Linked DNA regions of Homo sapiens: regions 2 and 3 are each linked to region 1. The links come from fine-mapping of genetic effects on gene expression. A gene starts in region 1. Each other region holds a variant in brackets. All regions are shown on one strand. Distances are between the middles of the regions.

Region 1 (10,226 bases):
AGATTCTGTATTATTTAAAAAAAAAGACTTATGTATAGGCATAGAAAAAAATGTCAGGAGAGAAGGAACAAAAAATTAGTACAATTGTTATATCTGGTATAGAATGAGAGGCGATTTTTATTTTTTAATTTTACTATCCCTATTTTCCAGCTTTTCTACCATGAGCATGAATTATTTCTACAGAATGGTTCCAAAAATTGTCTGCTTGTCCCCCTCTGGAAGAGGGGGCCCTACTCCCTTCTCCCCTTCCCACCTCCTGTCCCCTCCTCCACCCACTGGGACACTGCCCTCCTCGAGGCCAGAGAACACTTTTCTCTCTTCAAAGATTCTCTTCTTGACCAAACTGAGCTTTGAGCTCCTGAACCTTCTCTTAGACCTATGCATGCACTTCCTTGTAAAATCCAGTTTTAGGAAGAACGTGGCTAAGTCAGGTTACCAACATCCTCCCACCCTGCCTATCTGATCACCCTCGATATCCAACTGGGTTCCCCCTCCTCCACCATCCCCAGGTGATGTCTGACCATCCTGGCCCATCTTCAGCAAGAATCCTGTTAGGTCGGCATAGCCAGAGTCCCCCCATACTCGTCTTAGTAATGTTCCAGCCACCACTCCCACCCTGTTCCTTGGCTATAAATTCCTACTTTCTCATGCTGCATTCGGAATTTAGCCTAGTTCTATACTGGGGTCTCTTACCCCTATTGCAGTAGTCCCAAATAAAATCTGCTTTCACCACTTTAACTACTGTTCAGTTCTGTGGGGTTTTTTTGTTTGTTTTTCTTGAACACCTCCTTATCTTCCTGGATGTTCAGCAGTGTTTGGCATTGCTGATCACACCCCAGTCTCTTCCTGAAACACTCTTTTCCCTTTGTTCTGTGAGCCCACTCCCTCCTTCTTCAGGATAAGATGTGAGCTCCTTTGCATAGCGCACAAGGCCCTCTATGCTGCGGGAACACAGGCTCCTCTTGCCCTCTGCTGCCTCCTCTCCCAGCAATCCTTCCACATATTCTTCTCACCAGCTCCTCAGATACGCTCTGGTTCTATCAAGACGTACTAGGCTGAGCATGGTGGCTCACACCTGTAATCCTAGCACTTTGGGAGGCTCAGCAGGGCAGATTGCTCGAGCCCAGGAGTTCAAGGCCAGTCTGGGCAACATAGGGAAACCCTGTCTCTACAAAAAACACAAAAATTAGCTGGGCATGGTGGCACACACCTGTGATCCCAGCTACTTGGGAGGCTGAGGTGGGAGGATCACCTAAGCCCAAGGAGGTTGAGGCTACAGTGAGCTGTGATCATGCCACTGCGACAGAATGAGACCCTGTCTCAAAAAAAAAAAAAAAAAAAAAAAAAGACAAGCTGCCTTCCTAGTACACATTTTACCTCTTTTCTTCCTCCTCCTCAGTCATCCCTGCATCCCCTATGGAGCAGTTTTTATGTCAGGCATTATGTAAGTACTTTACAACTACACCAACAGGAAATCCACTGCAGAAAACCCCCACTTAGAGTGATTTAGGCATTTATGCAAGGAGAACTTTGTAGAAAAAGTCCAGGGCGTGTATGCAAGCTCATATGCCATCAGCTCCCCAGGCTTGTTCATCCCTAACATGGTAGACTCCAAACTCATGTCTGTGCCTCCTGCTCCCATGATGGCTGCTGTGTCTCCAACACTGTATCCCCTTCCCAGGTAGAAGACAAGGAAGGAGCGAAGAGTTTTCTCCTAGCAAGATAAATCCTCCACAGGGACTTAAGTATATGTGGTCAGTTATGTCACATGGCCCCTTGTAACTGAAATGGGACATGTGTTTTACTTCTCCAGCCTCTATGGTAATAAAAACCAGGAAGAAGGGGGTTGTGAATGGCTTCCGGTTAGCTCATCACCAATGCCTGCCATACATTTCATCTTGTTTCAGTCTCATTTTACCTCATGTAATTCAAGCAATGTTATGATTTAAAGGTTTCTGTTACGTGCATTTCACCAGTGAGAAAATCAAGTCTCAAAAAAATAATACCTACTTTTTACAACCCAGGTCTGCCATCACCTCCTCCTGGCAGAATTCTTTGTATGCCCAACCCTAGGCTGAGTTAGTTATGTGCCCTCCTCTGTGCACCATAGCACCCTAGGCGTGCATCCTTGTTGAAATCTCCAGCTGTCCTAGAGTGGCCTGTGAGCCCCTGCAGTGGGCTGTGAGCCCCACAGGATAAGGCTCTGTAGCCCCCAGGCCTGGGGAGATAACAGGCCTGGAGCTGTACCTATGAGTGTTTGCTGAGTGACAAGCAAGGTGGTGGCCCTGCTCCATGTGGATGTGCCCAGACCCTGGAGCTCTAAAGTATCACATTAGGGAACAGAGACAAATTATAAGGTCCCAGAAGACCCGAGCCACCATGGGAAACGTTGGTGCATGGCTCAGCCAGAGTTCAGAGCACCCCCTGCAGGCTGCGGGTGTCTCTCAGTGACCACAGTGTCCTGAGGCCCAGTGACTTCCTGGGTGGAAACTGAGGCCTGGAGTGTTCCTCCCAGGGCAGTGAGAAAGAGAGAAATAGAAAATCCTTTGCAATGTGGTTTGTGTTACCGCAGCTTCAGCCATGGAAGGGGCTCCTTGAATTAAACAGGAAGCAGAAAATATCAGATTTAGATCCCACATTCCATGCATTGTATACAATTACGCGCTGGAGCCATAGAGGGGCACGTGGGACCCACAGAGGCAGAAAATGGGATTGCTGTTGGGAATGGGGTCGTTCTTTCATGGGAAACCAGTTGCATTCTTGACAGGTGGGCCGAGTCTTCCTGAGGTGCACACTTCACAACCCCAGGGGCACAGGTGAGGCCCTCTCATTTGCTTACAAGGCATTGGTGACAGACATGCTACCAGCTCCCACAATGATGGAGAGTCCCCTTCTCTGCAGCCCCCCAACACCGCTGCATATCTCTGGATTGTAGACCATCCTTGGTGGGCTCACCCCAACTCTCAGGCTCAACAGCCTCCTTTTTACCCATGACTCCTATGTCAGTCTCCAGCCCAGGTCGGCTTCCTGAGGCCCAGGGCCATAAACCCAATCGCATCAATAGGTCCAGCCCTTCAAACACTGCCTGTCTGAAACAGAACCCATCATCCTACCAAAAATATGCTCCTTCTCCAGGTGCCCTGCCACAGAGAATGATACCAATGTCCAGCCACTCACAAGAGCCAAACCATAGTGGTATCTTATCTCTTCCCGCCCACACCCATTGGATTCCCAAGTCTTGACCAACTCCTTCTCCTAAGGCCCTCTTACCCGTCCCCTCTTCTCCACCTGGGTGGCCATCACCCTAGTTCATGGGACCATTGTCTCTTGTCTGGATTGTTCTGCAGTCCAGCTCATCTTCATACCTTCAACATGCTCCAAAACCCTGCCCACGCCCTAGCTGGCCCAGCCACTCCTATGTCCCTGACCCTCTGATGGCGCTGTGTTGGCCTCAGGATCAGGCAAAGCCCTGGCCTTGGTGCACTAGGCTGTCCACACCCTGGCTCCTGCTGGCCTCTTCCCCCTGTTCCCTGGTGTTCCTATCCTGTCGCTAGGGCTTTGCACGTGACATTCCTTCTAATCTATTCTATCCATATTTCTTCAGGTTTTCCCTTGGACTTCAGCTCCTTTAGAAAGCCTTTCCAGACCCCCACCCACTCCCCATGTAGGAGGGCAAAGAAGTCCACTGAAGGCATCTAAAGTGTCTTATTCACTGTGTTTCTGTCTGTTGGATAAATGTGAGTGCAATGGTGACTGCTCGACTGCCTGGCACTACACTCAGACTCCTGGAATGCTGAAGCCTATACTGCTTTCTGTCCAGACCCTGAACTCCCTTTCTCTAAAGTAGGGCATGCCAATTTAAACAAAACACGGAGGACCATTTGCAGCCATGAACACGGCCCTGCAGACGGACAGGCCGATGAGCAGCAGAGCAGACAGGGGTTCCCGCCATCATCCCAGCTCTTCACTGCAGCCTTCAAGGGTCTCCCTCAGAACTTTCATTCATTGTCATACTTCATTCATGATTGCTCATCTTGCCTATAAACAAATCTGAGACAAATAATAAGGCATATCAATGTCCGTATTTATTCAAGAGATACATTGGGGAAAGTCATTTTTCAAAATCTTTTACTGTAGGATTTCTTCACTAAAATCTGTAAAAACTGGTAGATATTGTTGGTGATGCTGGTGGCGGTGGTTGATAGGCTCAGGAAACATGGCTGACATCGCCCTGCCGTGAATTCTGGTATAGTTAAGCCCAGCTTCTCTTTCTTTTTGTCACTGGGGCTCTGGGTGGAGGGAGTAACAGAACAGGGGCAGCAGTTTGCACCTTCTGCTGGCCCTGTTTGCAGACTCAGCTTTTCTTTCCCTGGGCTACGTTGGCAGGTGATACGATCTCTCTGTTCCTCACCCCATGGAGAGGTGAATCTAAAATGAGTGGGTCTGTTAGGGTCTGCATGTCTGTACGTTCCCCTTCTGAGGGGAACTGGCTCCTGGACCCCGTTGCCCTGCTCCAGCTGGGGACCCAAGTGCAGCCATCCCAGGCAGGCCCGGCCCCGGGAGGCCTCCACCAGGGCTCTGCCAAGCAGCAGAGGCTGCCTCTCTAAAGATCCCCTGTCGGGAGAGTGCCTGCCATTTATGGAGCGGGCAGGCAGTAGGAACCAGATAGGCGAGCTAGCTGGAGGCAGCAAGCTCAAGGGGACTGGGCTGCTGCGTGGCGTTCACTGTGCAGCTTGAAGAAGACCCCACGAAGCCTGGACAGAGCCCCAGCTTGGTAAATATTTGTTGACCGATCGGTTGAATGAAATGGTCTTGGGGCAGAGGGGGAGTGGTTTTGTAATGGGGACTGGCGGCGGAAACAGCAGAGTCCCGTCTCTCTAACGGCTAAACTTTAGCGCAAAACAGACACACCGATTAAGGTTCACCGTGTGCCAGGGCCAGGCTGGGCTTCTTCTAGGTGGTTGCGGCGGGCGCGGCTCAGCCTGGGTGCTCCGGAAGCTCCGAGCAGCGCAGGCCGACGGCGACCGTGCGGGACCCGCCCAGCCGCGCTTCCGCCCCGCCTCTGGCCACAGGCGCGAACTGCGCGGCCGCTGCCACCAGGGGGCAGGCCAGGGCAGCGGGAGGCAGGGCGGGGACGCGGTGACGCGGGCACTGCCGGGTCCCGTGACTGCGCGCCCCGCCCGGAGTCCCCGCCGCCGTCATGCAGTCCCCGGCGGTGCTCGTCACCTCCAGGTGAGCCAGACCCCCGCGCCCCACACCGCACAGCTCGCAGTCCGGGGCGCCCGGGCGGAGAGGCGGGGGGAGGCCGCCGCCTCCTAGGCCAGGGACCTGGTGCAGGTCTCCCCAGCGCCCTCGGTGGCTTATCCGGGCTGGGCCCCTGCACCGCCCTGCAGGAGAGGTGGCGACCCCGATTTACAGATGAGGAAACCGAGGCCCTCTGGAGGGTAGAGAACTAGCCAAGGACAGCGGGAGCCCTGGGACTGACTGGTTCAGTGCAGGCGGGCGCAGTGGGGACTCTGCTCTCCTTTCCTACCGCCTTGGGTTCTTCTCTTTTGAGCCCGAAAATCTAGTTCCCCATCCTTTCAGAGCTCCCTGAGTCCCAGGCCCGGTGCTGGGCACTGGGGACAGAGGCGAATCAGACAAGCTCGCCCTGCAGGGGGCTGCAGCGGAGAGGGGGTGATGCCAGCAGCGGGTAGTAAGCTCAGGTTGCCATGGGAACACAGTACAGGGCAGGAACCCGGTTTCTGGGAGGATGAGTTTGATGAGAGACCAGGGAGAGGTCGTTGCTGCTTGCGAGGCAGCTCAGGAGAGCGCAAGTTACAGCAAAAGCCTTGGAGGGGTCCAGGCGGAGGATGCAGAATGGGTCGGCCCTGATCGAGACCTGGAGGACCCAGCCCAAGGTGGATCCTGGCAAGGCTGGGAGGCACGTGCTTTTACTTCTTTCCGCCTTTAAAACGCTGTAAAGTGATTTACTTCAAATATTTTCATACACTTCACCCTTGCTCTCCCTACACAAAGTCTTAGGCTAAGATGCCAATTTATGACATAAATGAACGTGTTACCCAGCCAACTGTTGATCTTCCAGTTGTAATCAGGAATTCCCCGTGACTTCAGGTCTAGAAAGGTATGATTCCTTTTGTAAACCCTGATGTCGGAGGCTGCTTGGTCTTTCATGATCAAGTGTGGTTACAGTTGTATCTTCATGGGCAGAAGAGGTTTCCCTACTGCCACTTACGTCACCTCCTCTCACCAAGCCTCAGTTTCCTTTTCTGTGAATTGGAGGTTTCAGATTGGCAGGCATGAGCAACGTCAGTAGTATATGCCCCTCAGCCATGTGCAGATGGATGGGGTGTGACTTTGGTGCTGGGTGCTTGGGATGGGGTGGGTGGCTTCCCTCCCTGCCCCGCTGCACAGCCTGGACGTGGCTTGTTAACAGATGTGGGGGCGCTGGCGGTGGTAAGGCCACATGAGTCAGGCTCATTTCTTGCTGAGGGCACCAGCACACCCAAGGATCTTGCCTGCAGGGTGAGTCCAAACGCCTTAGCCCAGCAGCAAGGCCGGCCCTTCCCAGTCGCACCCCAGCTCCTCTTTCCAGCCCGATCTCCTCCCACATGTCATTGCCACATGCACTCAAGCTTGAATTCAGCCAGAAGGTGTTTATCGAGAGCCTTCTCTGTACCGGGTACTGGCCCTAGTTCTAGGAGACAAACAAGTCCCTCTCGTAGAGCTTTAATGAGGGCACAGGCCCAGTGGGCAAATCTACGACATGTCAGGGATGATACATGCTATGAAGGAAAACAAAACAGTGGGGGCAACAGAGTGGTAGGAGGCATGCATGCTGTTTTCTATGGTGTGGTAAAGAGGCATCTTTCTGATGGAGTGGCGCCTGGACAGATCCCGGACAAGCTCCATGAGGGAGAGAGCCATGAAAAAGAAATCTTGGAAAAGTGTGTACTGGGAGGACAGGACAGCAGGAGCCAGGGTCCCGAGGCTGGTATGCTGGAGTGGAGTGAGCCCAGGGAGAGTGTTAGGTGATGCGGTGAAGAGGCAAGCTTGGGAGTGAAGGATGATCAGGAAAGGCCGAGAAGGCTGTGGAGGGGCCATCAGATTTAATTTCAAGTGCAATAGGGCCCAACTTCTGGTTTATAGAGATCCTTTGGCTGCTATGCTGAGCATGGGCAGTGGCCGAGCTGAGCATTCAGGACAGGCTTGTAGGTTTCCATGTAGAGCCGGTGGTGGCTTGGCCCGGGGTGATGGCGGCCGTGAGGGTGAGAAATGTTTGGGTTCTCGATATATTTTGAAGATTGAGCTTTCAGGTTTGCTGATGCTTGGATATGGGGTGTGAGAACAAGAAGAGAAGTTAAGACTAACGGCAAGTCTCTCAGCCTAAGCTGCTGGAAGAATGAGGCTGCCCTTTAGCAGGCTTGGGGAGAGGTAGAAGCAGCATTTGTGTAGACAGGTGAGTTTTGAGAAGCTCGTTGACAGCCCAGTGGGGATGTCAGGCAGCTGCAGCTGGAAGGAGGCTGGCTGTGAGGGGAGAGTGAGCTAAAGATGGGAGTTGGGGAGCCATTGGCTCGGAAATGGTATTTAAAGCCTGGAGCCTGGATGAGATCACCTGGGGAGGGGTACAGTGAGAGGAAGAAGGAGGGTGCTCTGGATGCTATCAAGGGGAACCATCCAAAGCAGTTCCTCTCCTCCTGTTTGAGCAAGAGTGGCCAGGGTGGGCAGAGAAGAACCAAGAGTGAGGGGGTGCTCCAGCCACCAGTGAAGGCAGAGCTTGAAGGAGGGGAGTGGCTGACTGTGCCCACTGCTGCTGACAAGTCAGACCAGAGGAGAAATGAGGATTCACCTTTGGATTTAACCACATGGAGGTCGCAGATGACCTGGGCGTGGGCAGTTTGTTGCATGATGAGGACCAAAGTCTGGCTGGAAAGGGTTCAAGATCAAACAGGAGGAGAGGAACCCATGAATATGGGGCCCTCTGTTGAGGAGTTCTGCTGGAAAGGGCAGGAGGGAAACGGAGCAAGGGGAATGTCGGGTCAAAGCACAGCTTTTGTTACATGAGTGGTCAGAGCATGGTTGCATGCTAATAAGCGTGGGCCAGTAAGGAAGGAAAATCGATGGTGCGAAAAAGAGGGGTGAGCTGCAGCAGCTATGTCCTTCAGTAGGTGGGAGGGCCTCGGAGCCGCTGCCCTGGTAGAAGGTTGGCCTTAGGAGCAGCCAGCCAGTTTGTCTACAGTCCCAGGAGAGGGCAGCTATCAGGGAGCAGCTGCAGGCTGATGGGCAGATGTGACAGCGAAGCCTAGGATGTTCTCCGATGGTCTCTGGAGCAGTACACAGCAGTGTCCACATCACTTGGGAATTTGCTAGAGATGGTGAGGGCACACCCCGGGGCCTGCAGAACCAGAATCTGCATATTAACAGGATCCCCAGGGGGTTGCACGCACATTACAGTTGGAGAAGCTTGGTCTAGGGCACATCCTGCCCACCACACCCCCATTTGTTTATGTACTCTCCGTAGCAGCTGCAGCAGAGACCAGATACCCTACACAGCCTGAAATATTTGCTATCTGACCCTGTAGAGAAAGTTTTCCTATGGGTTCAGGGAAGTGGGAGGGTGATGGAGTAGGCCCAGGTGCATCAGACTCGTCGGAGGGCTTACTAAGAAAACAAGATGGCTGGCCACCCTAGGCCCGAACATGCCTTTCTTACAAGTTCCCAGGCGATGCTGATCCTGATCCAGGGACCACACTTTGAGAACCCCACATCTAGGGCAAGGTAGGGTTGCCAAGCCTGGTGTGGTGCTGTGCCTTCAAGTCTGCAGCCATGAATTTCAATGGGACCAGGCTGCATGTTTACACCATGTCTGTCCCCAGTCACGTTGAGCCACTTGGGCACAGGGTGAAGGAAGCAGAGAACTGGAGAAGTGGGCTTTGACCAGGCCAGCTCAGCTCTGGGTAAGAAGTCAGGGGAGCTGGGCCTAAGGCAGAGGGATTCCAGCAATGGAATGGGACCCTGGAAAAGGGGTGGGGTTATGGATTGTGGGTTCTGGCGTGGTCAGAGAACCATTGGATGTGGGGTGCTGTGAGGGAGCTGGATCGTGGGAGGTGCCCATCTGGGTCTGCTCCATCCCTTTCCCACCCCTGAGAGGACCTCCCCGCAGCTCAGGCACTGCCCTTCTTGTCACTTTCACCCCCCTGTGCCTCGTTTTCATCATGATCCTAAAGAAATGATGCCTGGCTTCTTTCTCATGCCTGCCCCATAAGAGGCCACCTGGGCTCTGGAGCAGCTGCCTGGGATTGAACGCAGCTCCACCTCATGCCGGGTGAGACCTGGGCAGGCACTTTCCCTTTAGGGGTCTGTTTCCCTGTATTTTAAGTGGGTCTGGGTAGCAGAGCTCCTTCGCAGGGTTGCAGGAGGCGGAAGTGACTTCACACAGGTGCATCCCTAGAGCCCAGCGCGTCTCCCCTCAGCATCCAGCCTCACCTTCCTCCTCCACACTGGTGGCAGTGACACCGTGGGTGACACCAGGCCGCGCGTGCACACTGCGTGAACTCGGTGCCGTTGGCAGAGGGCTGGCTGTGCGTGTGCACCTCCCAGTGCCCATTCGGCCCTTGCTGCACTTTTCACCACCTGAAGGCAGGTTGCCTGGGGTGCCCTACGCCGCGGGAGGATATTCCTTGTGTGTACAGCACTCAGTCATTGGGTGTCATACATGGCATAGGAGACGCATCACTGTAGGCCTCACCAGTTGGTGACAGCAGCGTTGTGCTGGTGACAGCGTGGCCTAGCGTGGGATGTGAGGGGTCCGTGTGGGAGGAGTGCTGGGGCAGGGGGATTTGATGGATTGGGGTATAATTCCAGAGAGGGAAGGGCCTTGCCCCAGACACAGGTTAAGCTCCAGAAGCTCCTCCCGTGTTTTCAGGGTCCTGCCCAGCACACAGGAGGTCTCACCTCGATGGTCAGAGCTGCTCAGAGGGTGCCCCACGTGTCCTGCCAGAGGTGTTTGCGTGAGGGATGTTAGTCTGCACAGGTCTGTGTCTCACCTTATGTAGGATGAGGGATGTATTTAATAACTTTTTCCACTTCAAGAAAAACATCTCATCACTTCTTTGCTCATCATACAATTCATTATATTCGAATTGCATTTTACAAATCTCCAAGAGCGGTGATGTTTTGCCGATGCATCCTCTCTACACCTCGAGGGGCAGCATCGACTGCCCAGA
Region 2 (10,226 bases), 24 kb after region 1:
GGTCTGGCTTCCTGGGCAGGTTACTGCAGACTGTGGGTCAGAGTTCCACCTTTACATGTGGCCTGGCCATTGTCCCTTTGTGTATTCAGGCTCTTGGGGGTACTGGGCGCTTGCTGTAGAATGTAGGCTGCAGAGACCTGCAGCTGGGACCCACGTGGTTCCCTGGTGGTGCAGGAGCCAGGATGGGTGAGGGGCAGTCTCTGGCCCCATTGTGGAGAAGGAAAAATGGCATCACCCACAAGCTCAGGTGGGATTGTCACTGAGTCCTGGCCCCTCAAGATAGGGCTCAGTGGCCAGGAGAGTGGGCTCTGGCTGTTGAGAAACAGGTCCTTGGAATGTGACTCTGGGGACCATAGCAAATGATAAACGTTCATGGTGACCTCCCTGGCTGGCCCCTTTTTTTTTTTTTTTTTTTTTTTTTTTTTTTTTTTTTGAGACAGGTTCTTACTCTTTTACCTAGGCTGGAGTATAGTGGTGTGTGATCTCAGCTAACTACAGCTTCAACCTCCCAGACTTAACTGATCCTCCCACCTCAGCCTCTCAAATAGCTGGAACTACAGGCATGCACTACCATGCCTGGCTACTTTTGTCTACTTTTTGTAGAGATGAGGTTTCACTATGTTGCCCAGGGTGGTCTTGAACTCCTGGACTCAAGTGATCCTCCTGCCTCGGCTTCCCAAAGTGCTGGGATTACAGGCATGAGCCACTGTGCCTGGCCTGGCCCCATTTGCTTTTTAAGGCCCAGAGTGAAGTCTGCTGAGTAGAAAGCATAAGTGAGCCTAGACATCACCAGGCAGCTCCCAGGACCCCAGACCTCTGCCACGGCCCTGCGCTGACTTGCATCCAGGACCCACTTGGCAGCTTGCGAAGCATTTCTGTGTCATTTGCCTCCTTCTTCCCTTTGACCTCCAGTAAGGAAACATGGTTGGGGAAGTTGAGTGACTGGTCCAGATCCTATACAAGTTCTCCTACATCCCCCTCTGCTGCTCCTCTCTCAGCAAAGGCCAGAATCTCCCCAGGCCCCACTGGAGGTGGCCAACAATTCCCACAGACCCTCCCTCCATGCACCTGCTGCCCAGCTATTGGGCACTTTCACTATGCCAGGCTCTGCACACCTTGGCATTTTCATGGGCTCTTCTCTCTGCCCGGAGCACAGCTTTTGTGACTCTGCTCGTTTTTCCATCCTGGCCTTCTCTGAAGCCCCTGTCCAGTGAGGCTGGCTTGGACTCCCAGGGTTAGTGCCTGTCCTCAGGTGATTCTCACTCTTGTGATTGCTTCTCCAAGGAAGCCCATTGCTGTTGCAAATAACATTGTCCTGGTGTGAATTTCAGAAGTCCATTTATTGGTACTCTGAGAATTTTCTCATTGAAAAAATAAAACCAGCCAGGCACAGTGGCTCTTGCCTATAATCCCAGGACTTTGAGAGGTCAAGGCGGGAAGACCACTTGAGCCCAGGAGCTTGAGATCAGCCTGGGCAACATAGCGAGACTCCATCTCGACAAAAAAATTATTTTTTAATTAGCCACGTGTTATGGTGTGTGCCTGTGTCCCAATTACTAGGGTGGCTGAGGTGAGAGGATCACTTGAGCCCAGGAGGTCGAGGCTGCAGTGAGCTGTGATCATGCCACTGCACCCCAGCCTAGGTGACAGAGACCCTGTCTCAAAAAAACAAACAAAAACCCAAAAAACAAAAAGACACCAAACAGCTGAATTTAAGAATAAAGTATGAAAAGTGCATTAGTTTAAAGCACGCAGTTTGCATCATTGGCAAGGAGGTGGATTTCCGTATTTGGTTAAGCTGCACCCTGGCTTTGAAGACTCATGCTGTCCATGTGTCTCAGTTGTGGAAAGATCAGCAGTCTTCTGTTCAGACCCAGTTAAGCTGGCTGTGTCTAGGAGATGCCTCTGCCATGCATGTACACCCGGTGCTGAGCAGCTGGTGCCCATTGGTGGTCTGCTGTGTGGGTGGGCACATCTGGGAATGGTGCCACAGGCCCCCTGGGTGGCCAGAGTGGTGGATGCTCTTATGTGTCAATCACTGTCACCAGAACTGCCTGAGCCACAGGGAGCCAGGCTGCTGCTCAGCCTGTCTGAGCATTGGAGCTGTCAGCCGCGGCAGCTGCCGCCTCTCACCCCGTATGCTGCACGCCCGCCTGCAGAACATGGCCTGGTCTGCGCGTCTGTCTGCCGTCAGGAATACACAGCAGGAAAGCGGGTGTCTGTCCATGCACACATGTGCATGCAACAAGAACATGCCAGCACATGCCTGCAATCCATCCAGGAGCACCCCACCTACCTCATGCAACCTCTGTGGGCCCAACTCATGTTTTGGTGGCCCTCATGGCCTGCACTAGTTCCAATGAACCCTGTGCTCACCAGGAAGCCAGGAGCTGCAGTTCCAGTCCTATTCCCTGCAGACCTCTCTTTGAAGCCCCTTTTGCCCCATCCCTGGTGACAAGATTCTAATCATGACCAGCTGTCCTTCCAATGAAGGGAGAAGAGGGCACCCTTCCTCCATGTCAGTGAGGGGCTTTGTCTCCTGTCAGTGCAGAGGGCGGGCTGGAGGGCGGGCACTGCAGAGCCAGGCCCTGCGCCTGCAGACAGCTGGGTGGATGCTGATATAGGAATGGAGGAGGAGGAGGACCAGGGAGGAGAGGATTGAGGGGGCCCCCGAGTGATAGCCCATGTGTGCGACCTGACCCGACTCCATGTTCATGACAACCCTGAGGTGTTTGTGCTAGGAGAAGGGTGAAGAAATGGCTCAGAGACTGAGTGACGCACCTGTCATGGAATTACTGACCCCCTCACTGAGATCAGAAACCTGTCATCACCTTAGACAATTCCCTTCTGTCAGCCGATCACCTTAACTGTCCAGATGTATAAGCACGTTTGCCTTCTGAAGTTCCCCCTAGCCTGTCTTCCCCTCGCACCACCGCTGCTCTCCTAGTCCAGGCTCTGGTCATTTCTTCTATGGACCATGAGCAAAGCTTCCCTGGAAAGAACTGACTCTCAGCCTGTTCCCTCATGGCACTACGTCTGCTGCAAACCTAAGGGGTCCCCTTTCACCAAGAGGAATCTGGGTTCCCAGTTATGTCCTAGTCACGCCCGCTGCAGACCCTCACAGTGTGACTCTCAGGTCCTGTACCCAAGATGCTATTTAACTCCATTCCACCAAGTTCACTTCCTGTCTCCACATCACCTCCTCCAAGAAGTCCTCCCTGAGCCCTCAGGCTTGGTTGGCTCTGTCCTCTGTGCTCTGCCGTGACAGAGCGGAACACCCTGTGTGCTAATGAACAGTTTCCTTTTTTTTTTTTTGAGACAAAGTCTCACTTTGTCACCCAGGCTGGAGTGCAGTGGTGTGATGTGAGCTCACTGCAACCTACATCCCTGGGGTTCAAGCGATTCTTATGCCTCAGCCTCCCGAGTAGCTGGGATTACAGGCATGCACCACCATGCTACGCTAATTTTTGTATTTTTAGTAGAGATGGGATTTCATCATCTTTGCCAGGCTGGTCTCAAACTCCTGGCCTCCCGTAAACTTTTTGCTTTAAACTAAAGCACTTTTCATATTTTATTCTTAAATTCACCCACCTCAGCCTCCGAAAGTGCTGGGATTACAGGCATAAGCCACCTCACTCGGCCATAATGATCAGTTTCTATGTGACCCTGCTCTGCCATGAGCTTCTGGGGACAGCGGCGGCTCGTCCTCATCTTTGTTCCCTCGTCCCCAGCACAGGTTCTTGCAGGTGGGAGGTTCTCAGTGAGTGCTCGCCATCAAAGGTGCCCACGAGGGAAGGAATGAGTTGCTCATAGAGTGGCTGAGGGCCTGGTGGCAAGCCCAGTGGAGTCGGCCAGGAGATCTTCGGAGGAGGGGCTTTCGCACATAGGGCGCTGTCTGAGACTGGGGTTGGGAGCCTATCCCTCTTCCCTCCCTGCCCCTCCCGCCTTGGGGATTAACAGAATCCTGAGATGGAGATGTGCTGGCACCCTGCTCCCTGCCTACCTGTCCTCCACCTGTCCATCCCTCCTCCCCTCCATCCATCGCGCATCCTCTCATCCAGAGTTTATCAAGGCATCTGTTATGGACCAGGCACATTACTAAGCCCCCAGAGGCTGAAAGTTTTGGGCCGCTCAGGATAGGACCCTGGGGCTTTTAGGCACCAAAACTCCATATTTCCTGCTTCTTCCTTGATTCCCCTGAAGATGGGTCTAGAGAGTTGGGGAGGTAGAGAAGGCAGCCCAGGCAGCATGGGTGGGTGGGGGTAGGGTACAGACCATGCCTGCTGGAGCCGCCCGCGTGTGCTGTAGATCCACTTTATTTCAGTTCAGGACAACAAAAGGGCAAACATGTCTCTAGGGAGAAAAACAAGGACATGATCCAGTTGGAGGAGAAAACTCACATGGAAGGAAAGTTAGGCCTCTTGTGTGCTGTCCAGACCAGGTGCAGGCGTAGGAAGGGGCACCACGGCTTCTCCAGAGAGACCTCCTCGCGCCTGTTCTCTCTCGCTTCCCTTGTTCCTCAGATGGCTCGCTTCCCTCTCTGCGCCCTCTGATTTCTGGTCAATGCAAAGCCTCTTGCTCCCCTGCCCCGAGGGGCCCGTGGCTGGTTACATGCAAGTTCAATCCCCAGGAGCCAGGGAGGGCCTGCTTGTTTCTGAGCAGACAGTGTGGGGTGTGGCATGGAGCTGCTGCTGGGGGAGGCTGCAGAGCAGCCTCAGACCTGCCCTCCCTGAGAGCTGCCACCTGGGTAGGGGCCGGGGTGGCTCTCCACCCTTCCCCACCGCAGTGCCTGCTGGGGCCAGGAGCAAGGGCCACGCAAAGGGCGGCAGAGATGGGGAATGAAGGGGAGAGAAGCATCGGGCAGAACAGTGGCTGCGAGCCTGGCTGACCGTGGAATTCCACAGGAGACTGAACACAGCCTCCTGGGCCTGCTTGGGGTTTCCGACTCAGTGGGTCTTGGCTGGGGTCAGCTTTGCTGTCTGCCCCAGGAGGCCATGGCCCTTGTTTGGTACCCACTTCCTAGGAGTCATGAGAGCCGAGCTG[G/T]CTCTGCCTGATTGGTAAGAATAAAGGGGAGAATGTCTGAGTAAGAGCAGGCGAGCCCTGGCTCCTCCAGGTCTCAGAGGAGCAGAAGCTGAAGATTTCTGGAAAGCACTTGCCCTTAGGGTGGAGAATCGAGGCTCCCTCCACCTCACCTCCAGCACCACAAGCAGGGCCTGAGGGTGGTGCACAGCAGAGGAGGTCCCTCATGGCCTGAGCTGGGTGGAGAAAGCACAGGACCAGGCAGATGGGCCTTCTTGGAGCAGTCCCTGCCACTGCGTCTCTGCTCCCCATCACTACCCTTGAAACATGCCACTTTCTCCCCAGAGAACAGCAGGATCAATCCTGTTATCCCTGCGCCATCCTATATCACCTTCCTCATGGGACATTTGGAGGGGACAAGAGGATAGGACCATGAGTATGACCATCCTCAATCTAGACCCAGCCTGCCTGTCCCTTCCCTGCTGTGTGGCCTTGGGCAGACACTCAGCTTCTCTGGACCACTGTTTCCTCATCCAACAAACGAGCCCTGCAGAGATCCTTCCCCTGGGACTGGGCTCTGAGCTCAGAGGATGCTCTGTCCTGCAGCCTTCCAGCAGGGAACCTTCCAGCAGGGAGCCTTCCTGGCTTTCATAGTTTCTCCTCGCCTCGGCTGGGTGCCTGGGATTCTGCCAGACCTCAGACTCCAGACTGTGGGAATGGTCACCTTGCGGGGACCTGCCCCTCCAGCACCCAGGGCCATTCTGCTATTTTTATCTGCCATTGGTTAATCTGTATCATTGTGTAGGCCAGCCTCTCGGTGCAGTTTTGCCGCAGCGTGTTACCAACATGAGCTCAGATGGTGACCTCACATAGTGACCTCAGTCCAGTGGAACTGCCCGCCAGGCGGACAGGCACACGGAATTTCAGTTTCCAGTAAAGAGCATATTCTCATTATTTTCAGGAACCTTAAAATGGCTAATAGACATCATCAGCAGGGATTGAATGCCTGTTAAAGTAATTATTAAAGTAAAATCAAGTGTGTTTACTTACTGGCGGTATCACTTACAGTGACGTACACAGATCCTGAGCATTCAGCTCCATGCGTGTTTACTTATCCAGCCCGTAACTACCGCCTGGATCAAAACTAAAGTACTCCTACACCCCAGAAGCTTCCATCCTGCCCCGTCCTGGTTTCTTACAGCAGGGTCTGGCCCAGAGCAGGACCTCCTCAGCCAGTCGGCAAGTGCACTGTAATGGGACCTGGGGTGGCAGAGTCGGAGCCGGGGAGGTGGGCAAGTCCCAGAGAGGCTTCCTGAAAGAGGGGGGCTGCTCCACAGAACCCAAGTGTTAACTAGAACAATGGTGGTTTTACCATGCAAAGGAAACAATAAGGCACTTACCAAAGCTGCTTTCTGCCCTCCTGAGTCCTAGCCCTGAGGTTTGTGGCTCAAGACCAGGTCCATCCCCATTTCTGAGTGGCTGTGGAGTGTGGTTCTCTGAGCCTGGCCCCCAAGTGCTGAGACCCTGAGACCAGGCAGCTGTCTCTACCTTCCGAATGGGAGTGTGATCTCTGGCCTGTGACCGCATGGCAGACTCAAGGCCTGAAGGCGTCTAAGAGCTGGGGTTGTCTGGCAGCTGGTGCCCGGTCCTGGCAGCCGCCTGCTCCTCCTGACAGTGGTCATTTCTTGAACACAGGGCACAGCTGCCCACAGTAGCGGGGGCCTTACCACTCTGTCATTGGGGAAACCTGCTTCTCAACCACCTTCGCTGGCCTGCTTTTCTCCCCTGGGATGGAGGACCTGTCCTTCCCTTGGCCGTGTGACCATCTGTTAGAGATTTCAGAAAGACTTCAGCTCCACCTGCCTGGACTGCTCTGGGTGGCCCCCTCCAGGACTTCCCTGGTCCCTCTGGCCTGGTCTTTTCTGGCCCATGGCATCCAGCCCCTCCACTGCAGGGCCCAGCGCCTGTGTCGGTCTGACCGGACCACCTGGACACTTGTGGGAAATCCTCACCTTGTGCTTTGTCTGTGATTCTCCAGCTCCAAGAAGCCCAAGAAACATCCCAAAGTGGCCGTGAAAGCCAAGCCCTCGCCCCGGCTCACCATCTTTGACGAGGAGGTGGACCCTGATGAGGGGCTCTTTGGCCCGGGCAGGAAGCTGTCTCCACAGGACCCCTCGGAGGACGTGTCATCCGTGGACCGTAAGTAGAGCCCCATGGTCTGCTCCTGGTGTCCTCTCGGTGCCCAGCCCCATCACCAGGCAGGGTCTGGACTCACCCGGCGTGAATAGGACCCATATATCTCCCCTGTCCTGTTTAGATGTGATATAGACTCAGCTTTGTGCTTCCATGACATCTGTGGGCAGATGTGGGCCCTGGGCTTCCAGGCACTGTTTGTGTGGTAAGCGATAGGGCCTGCCTAGGGCACATGTGTGACTGTAGGTTTGGATTTAATGGGACTCTGTGTCGCCTGCATGGACTCTGCTGGAGGGCTCTGTGCAGAGTTGGCAGAGGGAAAACCGAGCGGCCTTGGGACATCTCCACTCATCCCTTGGTCCCTTTCCTCACATGCCCAGGTCGTCCTCCGGTGAGGGGAATTGATGCCACCCACTAATTCAGCCCATACTTGGTGAGCCCTCACTGAGGGCCAGGCCCAAGAACATGCTGAGGAGTGAGACCTAGTCCCTGTCCCTAGTCCCTATCCCGAGGGCCCCGGGGGCCCCTGGGGAGACAGGTCATTGCCTGACAGTTACAAAGCAGCACCAGTTATGACAGGTTGAGCAGAGGCATCAATTCCTGTAGGACTGCCCAGAAGACTTCCTGGGGTGGGGCAGAGAGAGAGCAGCCATGGCATCCCAGCCTAGAGGCTTCCTCTGACCCCCCTGCTGCTGCCTTCCCACAGCCCTGAAGCTATTTGATGATCCTGACCTCGGCGGGGCCATCCCCCTGGGTGACTCCCTCCTGCTGCCAGCCGCCTGTGAGAGTGGAGGGCCCACACCCAGCCTCAGCCACAGGGACGCCTCCAAGGAACTGTTCAGGTACCACCTGTCCCCAGCGGCGCTTGGCCAGCTCTGAGAGTGTTCTGGACAGAGCCAAGGGCCCGGCTCATTGCCCAGTCTCAGCCCCAGCCTCCTCTGAGGGGAGGACCCCAGGCCTGTGAAAAGTAGAAGCCTGTGGGTGCACATTGGGTGAGAGGCGGTGAAGGGGGCTGAGGGGGAGGATCCGCAGCCCAGGGCTGCTCAGCTAGTTCCAGAAAGAGAGAACTTTGTGTGCACAACCAGTCTTTCTTTTCACAATCATATTTTAACAGTTTATGTAAAGAATAATTAAATTATATAATTGCAAGAGCAGGTATAACTGGCATAAGCAAGTTTGGGAACAAATTAAACGGACTCATGGCAGCATGCAGCCCACCCAGCGAGGGGGCAAAGTGCAGATGTCTTGGTGATGGCCTCTCTGCCGGAGGGCCCGGTCGGCAGCTTTCACAGAAGGAAGGGAGAATGAGGCCTCAGCTGTCACATGGAGGTCAATTGGCAGAACCTGTGCCGGTGACAGCTCCTATTTCCTGAGTCCTTGCTGTGTACGCAGTAAGCCAGACTCCTTACACGCTCTCTTATGTAATCTTCACGACAGCCCCCTAAGGTGGATGCTATTTTCTCCATATTATAAGAAATCAAGTGTGGGACGCCACCTGGCTAAGACCCCTGCTCTGCCCCTGGCCTGGCCTCTCCACTTCATCAGGGACTGTCTGAGCACTTGGCTGGGTGATCTGCCTCCCCACCCAGCCCCCCAGTTCTCCCCAGGCCTTTACCTCCACTGGCCACATTCTCAGCAGACTCAGTGTTGTGCGTGTCTCCAGCTCCCACTCCATGCTCCAGGACACAGGACTGTGCCTGGGATTCAGAGGAAGCCAGGCCGCCTCTTTCCAGGAACGGCTTATGTGACACCAAGGCATGCAGGCCCTGGAGGCTGTCATCTGTACCCCTCATTAGCAGCCTCGGGCTATTAGACAGCCCTGCAAGTGCCCGCCAAGCCTGAGTCACCGTGACGGCTTCTGGTATTTACATGTCCCCAAGGCCCCTGGCATCTGTTCACTCTCATCCTGTGTCCTCGCTCCTGACATCCCAGCGGGCTGGAAGAAACCAGGATTGTTATTTTATTAGAGGGAAACCGAGGCACAGGGAAATGAAATACTAGAGTCTGCCTGCGGAGCAGCAGGGCCAGGCCGAGCATGTCTAGGAGTCCATGTGTCCCAGTGGGGTGGCTCTCGTGGGACCTTTCTGGCCTAGTTTATTCTAAATCCGTTACTTCCCAACCTGTGTTCTGCAGAACGTGGTACAGTGGGGTGGTCAAAGGCTATCTTCAAAGGGGCTCTGTGGCTGATGAATTGGGGAAATGCCACAAAAAGCAGGGCTCGTAGTGCGCGGGCCAGCACCACATGGCACTTCACGTTCTCATTCATCCCTGGGCCCCCCACTCTGTGGTGCCCCTTAGCATCCCGCAGAGCGCTTGGGGAGTCCCTGCTCAAAAAGTGTGGGTCCCGCACCCCCACCTTCACTTTAGCAGACATCTGCTAATGAAAGGATTAACTGCTTTTCTTTTTTTTAAATTCAGACAAATTCAAAAAGAGCCGTAACACTGGGATTAGCTTCTTGAGAGCAGGAACCACATTCATTCTTTGTGTCTGCCCTGTGACTATCCAGGGAGTAGTTGGACTTCCTCATAATAAAGAATGTTCTGATAGCCATTCATTCATTCATGCTTTCACCCCTTCGTTCATTCTGTCACTAGCCTCAGCCACCCTGAGGCCGCGTGGGGTGTACACTGAGCGGGTCGAGGCTAAGAAGGCTTTGTTCCTTCTGGCTGTGCAGCCACACCAGGGCAGGGCCTCTAGTCTAGATGTTTAGGTGAGTCTTGTCTTCCGCAGGAACCCAGGGAGAAGGAATGGGGCCAGGGTCTTAGAGCTCCCTTACCCCCCACTGGTTGACCTCACACCAGCTGGGCCTGGAGGAGAAAAGAGCTGGACCTTGCGCTAGTGAGAGCTAGTCCTAGTCATGACTCAGAAATAGGGTGCTTGGAAAAGGGGTGCCTTGCAGCCTCCTGTGTCCCAAGAGCAGCTATGCTGCCTCCCACCGTGGCTGACCACCCGTGTACACCACCCACCTGGGAGCAAATCCAGCTGCTGATTAGTTCCAAAGAGTCACTGCTTT
Region 3 (10,226 bases), 55 kb before region 1:
CTGCTTACCACAAACTGTCTTTTTCCCACTGTTTTGAAGTGCTACCTATGCCAAAAACAAAATAGTCATATATATGTGTATATATATGTATATGTGTATAATATATATGTATATATATGTATAATATATGTGTATATATGTATAATATATATGTGTATATATATGTATAATATATATGTGTATATATATGTATACTATATATCTATATATATATATCTATATATATATATACACACACACACACACACACACCCCTATATATATATAGTCCGGGGTGAGTCATATATATAGTCATTTCTGGGAAGAGTTTATGTAGAATCAATATTTCTTCCTTAATTGTTCATTGAATTGACTAATGAAATCATCTTGGCCTGGGGTTTTCTTTGTGAAGAGATTTTAAATTACAAATTCCATTTCTTTAATATATGTAAGACTATTCAGGGTATCTGTTTCTTTTTGAGTAAGCTTAACATTTTTGTCTTTGTGCAGACTTTGTCCATTTTGTCCAAGGTGTCTACATTCATGACATAAAGTTTTTCACAAAATTATGTGATTATCCTTTTGATATCTGGAATCTGCAGAGATGTCACCTCTCTCTTTCCTGATATTTGTAATATCTTAATATCTTTTGTCTTCTCACATTTTTTTCCCTGATCAATCTGGCTAAACACTTATCAATTTGATTGTTTTATTGAAGAACCAGCTTTTAGTTCCATTTATTTTCTTGATTATTTTATTGGCTTCAATTTCATTAATTAATTGCATTAATTTCTGGTGTGAACTTTATTTCCTGCCTACTTCAGAGTTAACTGCTCTTCTCTTTCTAGTTTCTTGCAATGGAAACTGAAATAATTGATTTTGTAATGTAAGTTTTTAGCGTTATAAATTTCTCTCTAACTACTGCTTTGGCCCTGTCCCACAAAGTCTGATATCTTGGAGTGTGACTTGCTTCTTTCACTTAGCATAATGTTTTCAGGGTTTTTTCATGGTTTAGCATGTGCCAGTGCTTCATTACTTTTTATTGATGAATAATATTTCGTTGCATGACTTTACCATGTTTTGTCTTTCCATTCATCAATTGGTGGACATTCAGATTGTTTGCACTCTTTGACTATTATGAATAATATTGCTGTAAACACTCATGTACAAGTTTTTTGTGGACTTATGTTTCTAATTCTCTTGTCTATAGGTGGAATTGCTGGGTAATATGGTAACTCTGTATTTAATATTTTAGGGAACTGCCAAACAGTTTTCCAAAGTTCCTGTACCAGTTTATAATTCTAACAACAAGACATGAGGGTTACAGTTTCTCCACATCTTGTCAACACTGGTTATTGTTTGTCTTTTTTTATTATAGCCATCCTAGTGAAGTAGTATCTCATTGTGGTTTTGATTATATTTCCTTGATGACTAATGATGTTGAACATCTTTTCACATGCTTATTGGCCATTTGTACAGATTGAATATCCCTTATCTGAAATGCTTGAGATGAGAAGTGTTTAGGATATGGGATTTTTTTTGGATTTGGAAATATTTGCATATACATAATGAGATATTTTGGGAATGGGACCCAAGTCTAAACACAAAATTTACTTATATTTTATATACACCTCATACACATAGCCTGAAGGTAACTGCACAATATTTTTAATTTTGTGCATGAAGAAAGTTTTGACTGCAACCCATTACATATAGTCATGTGTGAAATTTTCCACTTGTAGCATCATGTTGGCACTCAAAAAGCTGAATTTTGGAAGATTTCAGATTTTATGTTTTTACATTAGGGATACTCAACCTGTACATCTTCTTAAGAAGATATTTAGAAATGTCTGTTGCAATCCTTTGCCCATTTTCAATCAGATTGTCTTTATTATTGATTTGTAAGAGTTCTTTATATATTATGGCTAGAGATCTTTATCAGACATATGATCTTTTCCCATTCTTTAGATTGTCTTTTTACTTTCTTGATGGTGTCCTTTAAAGCATAAAAGTGTTAGTTTTGATGAAGTCCAATTTATTTATTTATTTTTGTCACTTGTGCTTTTGATGTCATAGTTACAAACCATTCTGTAATCTAAGGTCACAAAGATGTATTTCTCTTTCCTACTGAGAGTTTTATAGTTTTAGTTGTTACATTTAGGGCTATGATCCATTCTGAATTTATTTCCTATGTCATGTGAGGTAGTGATCCAGCTTCCTTCTTTTGCACATGTATATCCACTTGTCCAAGTTCCAGTTGTTGAATGTTTATTAATTTTATTATCTTTGTCATTTCTGCATCAGTTTTGACTGATCAGTTTTTCTCCTCATTTGGGTTGTATTTTCTTGCATTGCATGCATGATAATTTTTTATTGGATAGCTTACATTCTGAATTTTACCTTGTCAGATGCTGGATATTTTTGTACTTCTATAAATATTATTGAGCTGTGTTATGGGACACAGTTTTGTTATTTGGAGACGGTTTGATACTTTCTGGTCTTGCTTCTAGGCTGTTAGTTGGTACCAGAATGGCATTTGGTTTAGGGCTAATTTTACTCCACCACCAAGGCAAAAACCTCTCTGAGTTCTCTAGTTACCAGTCCCCAACCTTTTTGGAACCAGGGACCGGTTTTGTGGAAGACACTTTTTCCCTGGACCAGGCTGGGGGAATGGTTTGGGGATGATTCAAGCACATTACATTTATTGTGTACTTTATTTCCATTATTATTAAATGTTAATATATAATGAAATAATTATACAACTCACCATAATGTAGAAAAGTGGGAGGGAGCCCTGAGCTTCTTTTCCTGCAGCTAGACAATCCCATCTGAGGGTGATGGGGGACAGTGACAGATGATCAGGCATTAGATTATCATAAGGAGCACGCAACCTAGATCCCTTGCATGCTCAGTTCACAATATGGTTTGCACTCCTCTGAGAATCTAATGCTGCCAGTGATCTGACAGGCGGTGGAGCTTAGGCAGTAATGCAAGCAATGGGGAATGCCTGTAAATACAGATAAAGCTTCACTTGCTTGCCTGCTGCTCACCTCCTGCCGTGTGACACAGTACTGGTGCTGCTCTAGTGGATGCATTGTTGGTTGTGACGTTCTCTGGTGGACTGGTAGAAACAGTGACTATTCTCAATTCAGGGATTATTCCCTCTAATTCTTTCAGATGATTCCTTCACCCAGCTTCTCAAAATTTCTCATACAATTGTGCTGATCTGCACCTAGCTGAAATTCAGGGGGTCCCCTCTGCAGATCTCTGGAGCGTTCTCTCACTCACTACAGCTTTCTCCTTCTACAACTCTGCCCTACCAAAAACCACTGCGGTAGCCTCCCCAAACTATCACCTCTATCTCCTTGATTACAAATGCATTGTTTTAATCAGGTGTGTTAACATGGCAAGCATGGAGACAACTGCCTTTGAAAGAAGAGCTACTTAGAATTCTTGAAAGGAGGGGGCATTGCACACTAGGCAGGGCCTCATGGGGAAGCACCCAGTTGGGGAAGGAGGCAGAAGGAGCACAGGAGAGCATGGCCCAGAGCCTTCATTGTGGTCCCCATGGGAAGGAAGGGATGAGGCAGTTTAGGCAGCTGAGCAGGTTTAGTTAGGATTGGCTGGTATGAAAAATTTTGGTGGGCTTTGAGCTATAGGAGTAGTTCCTAGATGTCTTGTGTCCAGCCCTGAAATAATTCCCAGCAGGATTTAGAGTGATTTAGAGTATTTGGCTTGTTGTGTGAGAGTTTTCTAAGGGAGGTGGTTGGTGGGTATGGCCTTTGGATTGGTTGTTTGCTCAATATGAAAGAAATGTTCACCGTGGAATCATTTGCTATCTCTAAGAATTTAGCTAGTCATGGGAGGGGCAGCCTCTCCCCGACAAGCAAGGCCTCCAAGATGTCAAAGCATCATAAAATGAAGACAATAAAAAACAATTAATGCACTTATCAACTGAGGGAGATTACCAAGCTCTGCTTGTACTTCTCCTTCTTGCACTGTAGCCTGAAAACTTTTCAAATGATAAGCTGAGACAATCATAAGACTCCTCTCATTCGTTTCTCTTTTCTCAGGGATTGCTGTCTTTTTGTTGCCCAATATCCAGTGTCTTGAAAACTTTTTTCTTCATGTATTTTATCTTTTTTTTTTTTTTTAGTTGTTTCAGGATTTTAGGTAGGAGGGTAAATCCAGTCCCTCTTACTCCATCTTGTTCAGAAGTAGAACTATGGAAAATCATTTCCATTTGAAATTAAAATTCAGTTGAGATTTTTGGGAACCAATAACAGTTTAAACAGGTTTGGCTTCTATATCGATAATTCAGCAGTCTTTATTAACAGATTGGAGTGTTAGAGCAAGGTAGCGAAAAGACAGAGCATCTAAGCCAAGACAAAGGATGGGTGGGAAGACTTCAAGTAGACAGAATGCCATGAACAAAATGGCTGAGGATGCAAATTTTATGTGTTTAGAGGATAAGTAGCTCACATTCACTGGAAAGCATGAGTCTTTAAATGAAGCCAAGCTTCAACATAGGTTGGGATCAGATTTTGTAGAGAAGGCTAATGGGAGTTATAAAGAAAATGAGAATTTCTCTTTCAATAAAATCTGTCTTTTCCTCATGGTGTTCCCCAAACTTTTTTTTCTCCTAAGCCCCCACTAATATTCATTTTTCATTCCTTCACCTTCTCCTAATATCTAATCCATTTCTTAGCTCTGTAAGGTCGGCCTTATTTGTAGCTCTAGAAAGAACTTCACTGCTCAGTAAGGTAGACATTAGCCATATGTGGCTATTTAAATGTAAATGAATTAAATAAAATTGAAATTTCAGTTCCTTATTGCCCTGGCCACATTTCAGGTGTTCAAGAGGCACATCTAGCCAAGGGCCTTTGTATTGGTTGGATAGCACAGGGAACATTTCCACCATCACAGAAAGTTATATTGCATAGCACTACTCTAGAATGTGCTCAGAGGCAAAATTTTAAATTTCATATGCGGTATAACTATGTGAAAACTAAGACTTAACAATAAAATTTTAAAGATTTAAATGAAGTCATCAAAATAGTAATATTGATTATTTTTCACTAAGTTCTTGCTAATCATTTCTTCTACTCATATAATTTCTGCATTTTATATACAGAGCACATGTTTATAGTAGGAAAAATTATGTCTTTGATCATTTATTCTTTTTCATACTATAAGCACTTTAAGTCTCATTCTCTCCCCCACTAGACAATATAATAGTATTCTAACTAGTCTCTTAGAAAATAATACAAATTGAAAAAGAGAAAGGCTATAGAAGAAAAATGACAGAGGATTAGTCTAAGAGAGCCAATACCCTACTAGTAGGAGTTCCAGAAAGAGGGGATGGAGAAAACAGGGGAAGAAATTACCAAAGAAATAATAAAAGAAAATTTTCCAGAAAGAAAGTTGGTAAGTCCAAACAGTGAATGGGCCCACTGGATTTCCAGTCTAATTAAGGAATAGAAGACTTGTATTAGGGCATATTCCTATGAAACTTCAGGATTCTAGAGCTAAGACAGCTGAGTTTGAGGATAAGGAGATGGGATAGGGGCAGG[A/G]CAAAGGGAAGTAGTCACATTCCAAGAAACTAAAATTGAAATCATAAACCTTGGATGCTGGAAGATAATAAACTTGAGGGTAAGCCCCTTTCAGCTTAAAATTCTATATACAGCCAAACTATGTGATTCATGTGGGAAAAGAAACAAAAATTAGACATGTAAACATCTATAAAAATTCCTGTGTATCTTTTTATTAGTTACTGGAAAATGTGCTTCAGTAAAGTAAGGGAATAAACCAAGAATGAGAAAGTCATGAACAGAATCCATAAAACAGGGAATCCAGTCCAGAGAAGTGGCAAAGGGAAGTCCAAGGATGACAGCTATGCAGCAGGCCTGGAGAGCAACCCGTCCAAGATTGGATCAAAAGAATGGAAGGCTCTGTGGGGGGAGGGACAGAATAAATGAATTATTGGATGTGTTTGTACATTTGGGAATAAAATCTGATGCATTTTTGAAGAAAGAATTTTCATTGTCTACTCATGAGAAAAGAAAATCAAGTAAAGGCAACAAATAATTCTAGGAAAGACAAAATGATGTACAAAGAAAGAAACTATAACCTATTTGAAAGGGAGGCAGGGAAGTGAGAGGAGAAGAAAGGACAGGCAGATCACCTGGGATTCCATCAACCAGAGATAACGTGTTATTATTTTATTGTTTATCTTTTCAAATAAATCTGTACCATACACATAATGTATCTTTACAATAGTGGGATCATACTGTACTATTTCATGGTTTGTTTTTTGTCAGTTACTATTATTTTTAAATATGTATTTGACATTATATATTCTGCAGGATAATTTTTAATAGGTTATAGAATAATTAATTTAGTGAATAGACCATAATGTATTAATCAAATCTCTGTTGCTTTAATTTAGTTGGTCCTTATAAATTCCCTGAAATATAGTAAAACAAAGACAGTTCTGATTTTGGAACCGGGACTTAGAGTCTTATAGTCCAGCTTCTTAGTATATAACTGCGACTAAATATCCTGTTCTGATTTAGGAGATTAGGCCAAGAAAATGCAGAATATTTACTCCTATATGTACTCATGCTAATATCACAGACAGACAAGAATGATTAAAGTGCTACTTTTTAGGATTATATCATGGCTATATTTAAGGGAGCATCTCCTACCCTATTCTCTGTCTAGAGTGCTGCTAACCCAAGTATCTGCATGGTCCATTTTCTCATTTCATTCAAGTTCTTCTCTGTTCACACATCCCCTTATCAGGGAGGTCTTTTCAGTGAATTTTACATAAAATAGGCCACCTCTGTCACTGCACAGACTTATCTCCTAAGCTGATTTTATTTTTCTCCATAGCACTTTCTCACCATCTATCATCCCAACACTAAAATATAAGCTCAAGAATAGTGTTTCTGTCTTGTTTGTTGCTCCATCTCCAGCGCCTAAAATAAGGCCTGGCATAAAGTAAGTAGGTGCTCAGTCATCTTTGAATGAATAAACAAATGAATGAGTTAATTAACTGGGACTTAGAAAACAATAGGAACAACCCAAGAAGGCAGTGAAGGGAAATTCTAAGTCGACAGTGGTCCAGGTTAGAGCAGAAGGTCTCAGGGTCCTGGAAAGGAGGTCTCCAGGAAGAATTGACTCAGAAAAATATTGAGTAGAGTTAAGAGGGAAAAAAAGGTAACTGTAACGAAAACAAATGTTGGAGGACAGAGAATGGAAGTGTAAGAGTGGAAGTGTGGTTCTAGATACCACTTGGCTCAGCAGTGAACAATATTCAGAAGTAAAGGTGTAAGTATATTATTTAAGTAAGAATAGAATAATTCAAAATAAGATATAAACATGTTGAGAAGATGGCAGGAAGGAATGGTAGGGCTGTAAAAGGGAGCTAAATCCTCATCTTTCATAGCAACTCAGCAAGGGTAATCAATAAGTTATCAAGAAATGACAAGATGATCGTAAGTGTTTAGAGGTTTGAAGATAACTGGTGGAAGGACAGCTAAAAGAGTTCAGAGAGGCTTCCTCTAGGAAACGGGTCTAGAAATGGGAAATGATGGAAAAGAAAACTATGGTTTGGCACTACAACCATTTCTGTGATATTTGATATGAAACTATATATGTGTATGTGTGTTACCTTGATAAAACTTTAAACAAGGAAAGCAGAGGCAAAATGTAAAAATTAATAATCTGGGAGCTGGGTGCGGTGGCTCATGCCTGTAATCCCAGCACTTTGAGAGGCCAAGGCAGGCGGATCTTCTGAGGTCAGGAGTTCAAGACCAGCCTGACCAACATGGTGAAACCCTGTCTCTACTAAAAATACAAAATTAGCGGAGTGTGGTGGCGCATGCCTGTAATCCCAGCTACTCTGGAGGCTGAGGCAGGAGAATTGCTTGAACCTGGGAGGTGGCCGTGAGCCACGATCGTGCCATTGCCCTCCAGCCCGGGCAACAAAGAGCGAAACTCCATCTCAAAAAATAATAATAATCTGGAACTAAAATTCCAGATGGTTGAAGCAACAGGGATGGAGGCAGGATGGGAGGAAGGCATGGGGAAAGTGCAAGTATGCTAAGGTCATGCCTTGTTTAGATGAGTAATTCCAGACAGCAAGAGAAAATAAAAAGTAAGTTTGCAGTTTTTAGGTAAGGCTAACCACTAGATAAATAAAAATGGAATTTATACTTTCAGATTGTTAATGAAAAGAAATTTGTTAAATCCTGGGTGGGGAGGAAAATTCATCATTCACACTAAAGATAAGAGGCAGAAATAACAAGAAAGCGTAGGGTATATAAAGCAAGATGACTGGCGTCAGACCAAATAGCTTTGATCTCAATATATGTGAATATGTTTAGTCCTTCTATTTAAGAAACAGAGACTTTCAAACTGCATTTTTAAAGAAGTCCACTTACATGATTTCAAGAGACATACTTGAAACAAAATGACAAAAGATTGAAAATGAAGGGAAGGACAGATGCTGGCAAAAAAGAAAGCAAGATAAGAATAATAATACCAGCCAAAATGGAATTCAGGGTACAAAGCATTGAATGAAAATTTTCTTACCAGTACAAGAAAGCCACATAAACTCATGTTATCTCTGGCGTTCTTCCTCTTTCCTAGGTATTTGACATCTTGAAAGTGAGCATCACTTTGCTTATTTTGCAGCCAGTGTAATGGGACTAACCCTATTGAAAACTCCTGGAGAACTTTAAACGTATTTTTAAAGATAAATAATCCTTTTAGTTGTTTCCTTTAAAAAAAAAAAAGCCAGTATATTTTCATGTTAGTAACTGTTTGCATTTTCTTGGTATACATGATTTATTGGTAACAATTTGTACTTCTAAGCCTTAAATCGAAATAGCACATATTGGTCTGGTAAAATTGCACACATCATCTGCTGTGGTATCTGACATTGGGCTGTGGCACTGTTAAACTTTTGCTATGGAGAAGCCAGATGAGGTTGGAAGAAGGTTCTTTTAAATGAAATGCTCTTGTTTCCAGAGACTGTGTGCATGTTGCCTGACTCACATTCCTCTGTTGGCCTCACCAGTATCTCTCATCAGATAGCACGTGCCAAAAGAAAGGAGGAACATGAATTTACTAAAATTAATTTGAAATTTGTGTTTGTTCTATATATTCTAAATGTTTGACTTTTTATTTTTTAAATGTAGCTAATGCTGCCTACCTTGGGGGCCAAGAAATGATGGAGGTGGTGAAGAGAGATGACGAAACCATAAAGGAGCATTTATGTAAGGTAATCACTTTAGTGCTGCAAGGGGATAGATAATAAGTAGATGGGCAGAGATACGAGGGCAAAGGACTAGAACTAGTTAGAATCTGTAAGACTTTAAGGGTTGGTAGAATGACATAGAGTTCTACTTCCAGTTAAAATTGAAATTATCCCTGAAAGTTGTGTAGAGAGTAGTAAAGCTAATTGCATAATAACTTATTTTTTTATCACCTGTTTTTGTTGAATTAATTTTAGAATCAATACTTTTCTATTTTGTCAATGCATTTTAGCCTCTCTAGGCCTTCTACTGAGAAAACTCCATAATATTTATAGAATAAATAATGTTGGAATATAAATGAAACAGTGGAAAATACATTATATGTTATATGATCTCATGACTAGTGAGCCTTTCTTATTCTCTAATGTGTTAGAGTAGGAATGTCCTGCTCTGACCCTAAGACCAGTTTTGTGAAATATTCAACATTTGGGAGTTATGCTGCAAATACTAGAATCTTGCACACACACATCTGGAAGCACCAATCTCTGAAACTATAAGAGTAGGGTTTAGTATATGTCTAAGGTCACCCTAGAATTTGGATGACTGTGGTACTCCTGTGGCATCATTTGTCTGGCTGTCCGTTCTGAGTAGGACAGAACTGTACTAATATTATAGCCACTAGCCACATGTGGTTATTTGTGGCTAGCCTTAATTGAGTTGTGCCATAAGTGTAAAACACACATTGGATTTCAAAAGTTTAGTTCCCCCAGAAGCAAAGTATTTCATTAATTTTTATATTGATTACCTGTTGAAATACTACCTTAGATATAGTGGATTAAGTAAAACATATTATTAAAAGTAATTTCACCCATTCCTTTATAATTTTTTAAACATTGTAACTAGGAAATTCTAAAATTGCATATGTACCTTGCTTTATGCTTCTGTTGGACAGCATTAGTCTTAAACTTTACAATTGGTGCTGAA

Which allele goes with the higher level. Alleles are on the strand shown, and positions count from the first base shown. SD is a standard deviation of normalised expression in the study named. Not every link is listed here.
As copies of G replace T in region 2, the expression in aorta of the gene that starts at base 5,166 in region 1 goes down (small effect, 0.19 SD a copy in GTEx).

What was found. PIP is the estimated chance that this variant, and not a neighbour inherited with it, causes the effect.
Region 2: its variant is the best candidate, but not a certain one, in a credible set for the expression of HS1BP3 in aorta (GTEx, PIP 0.81).
Region 3: its variant is the best candidate, but not a certain one, in a credible set for the expression of HS1BP3 in whole blood (TOPMed, PIP 0.71).

Annotation. Positions count from the first base shown.
Region 1 is chr2:20,646,038-20,656,263 of GRCh38, reverse strand. HS1BP3 (HCLS1 binding protein 3) reads left to right here and starts at 5,166. Exons shown (of 7, transcript NM_022460.4): 1 at 5,166-5,232. The coding sequence starts at 5,201. It overlaps LOC105373466 (a long non-coding RNA gene), which reads right to left and starts at 4,982. Exons shown (of 2, transcript XR_001739320.2): 1 at 4,912-4,982; 2 at 4,064-4,289. RefSeq lists enhancers at 4,748-5,485, 5,570-5,719, 5,740-5,819 and a silencer at 4,900-5,489.
Region 2 is chr2:20,621,724-20,631,949 of GRCh38, reverse strand. HS1BP3 (HCLS1 binding protein 3) reads left to right here. Exons shown (of 7, transcript NM_022460.4): 5 at 7,058-7,218; 6 at 7,919-8,054. Among named protein-coding and RNA genes, the nearest start is that of HS1BP3, 24 kb to the left of the region's middle. The variant G/T (reference allele first, on the strand shown) is at 5,044.
Region 3 is chr2:20,700,612-20,710,837 of GRCh38, reverse strand. LDAH (lipid droplet associated hydrolase) reads left to right here. Exons shown (of 7, transcript NM_021925.4): 6 at 9,186-9,268. Among named protein-coding and RNA genes, the nearest start is that of GDF7, 39 kb to the right of the region's middle. The variant A/G (reference allele first, on the strand shown) is at 5,553.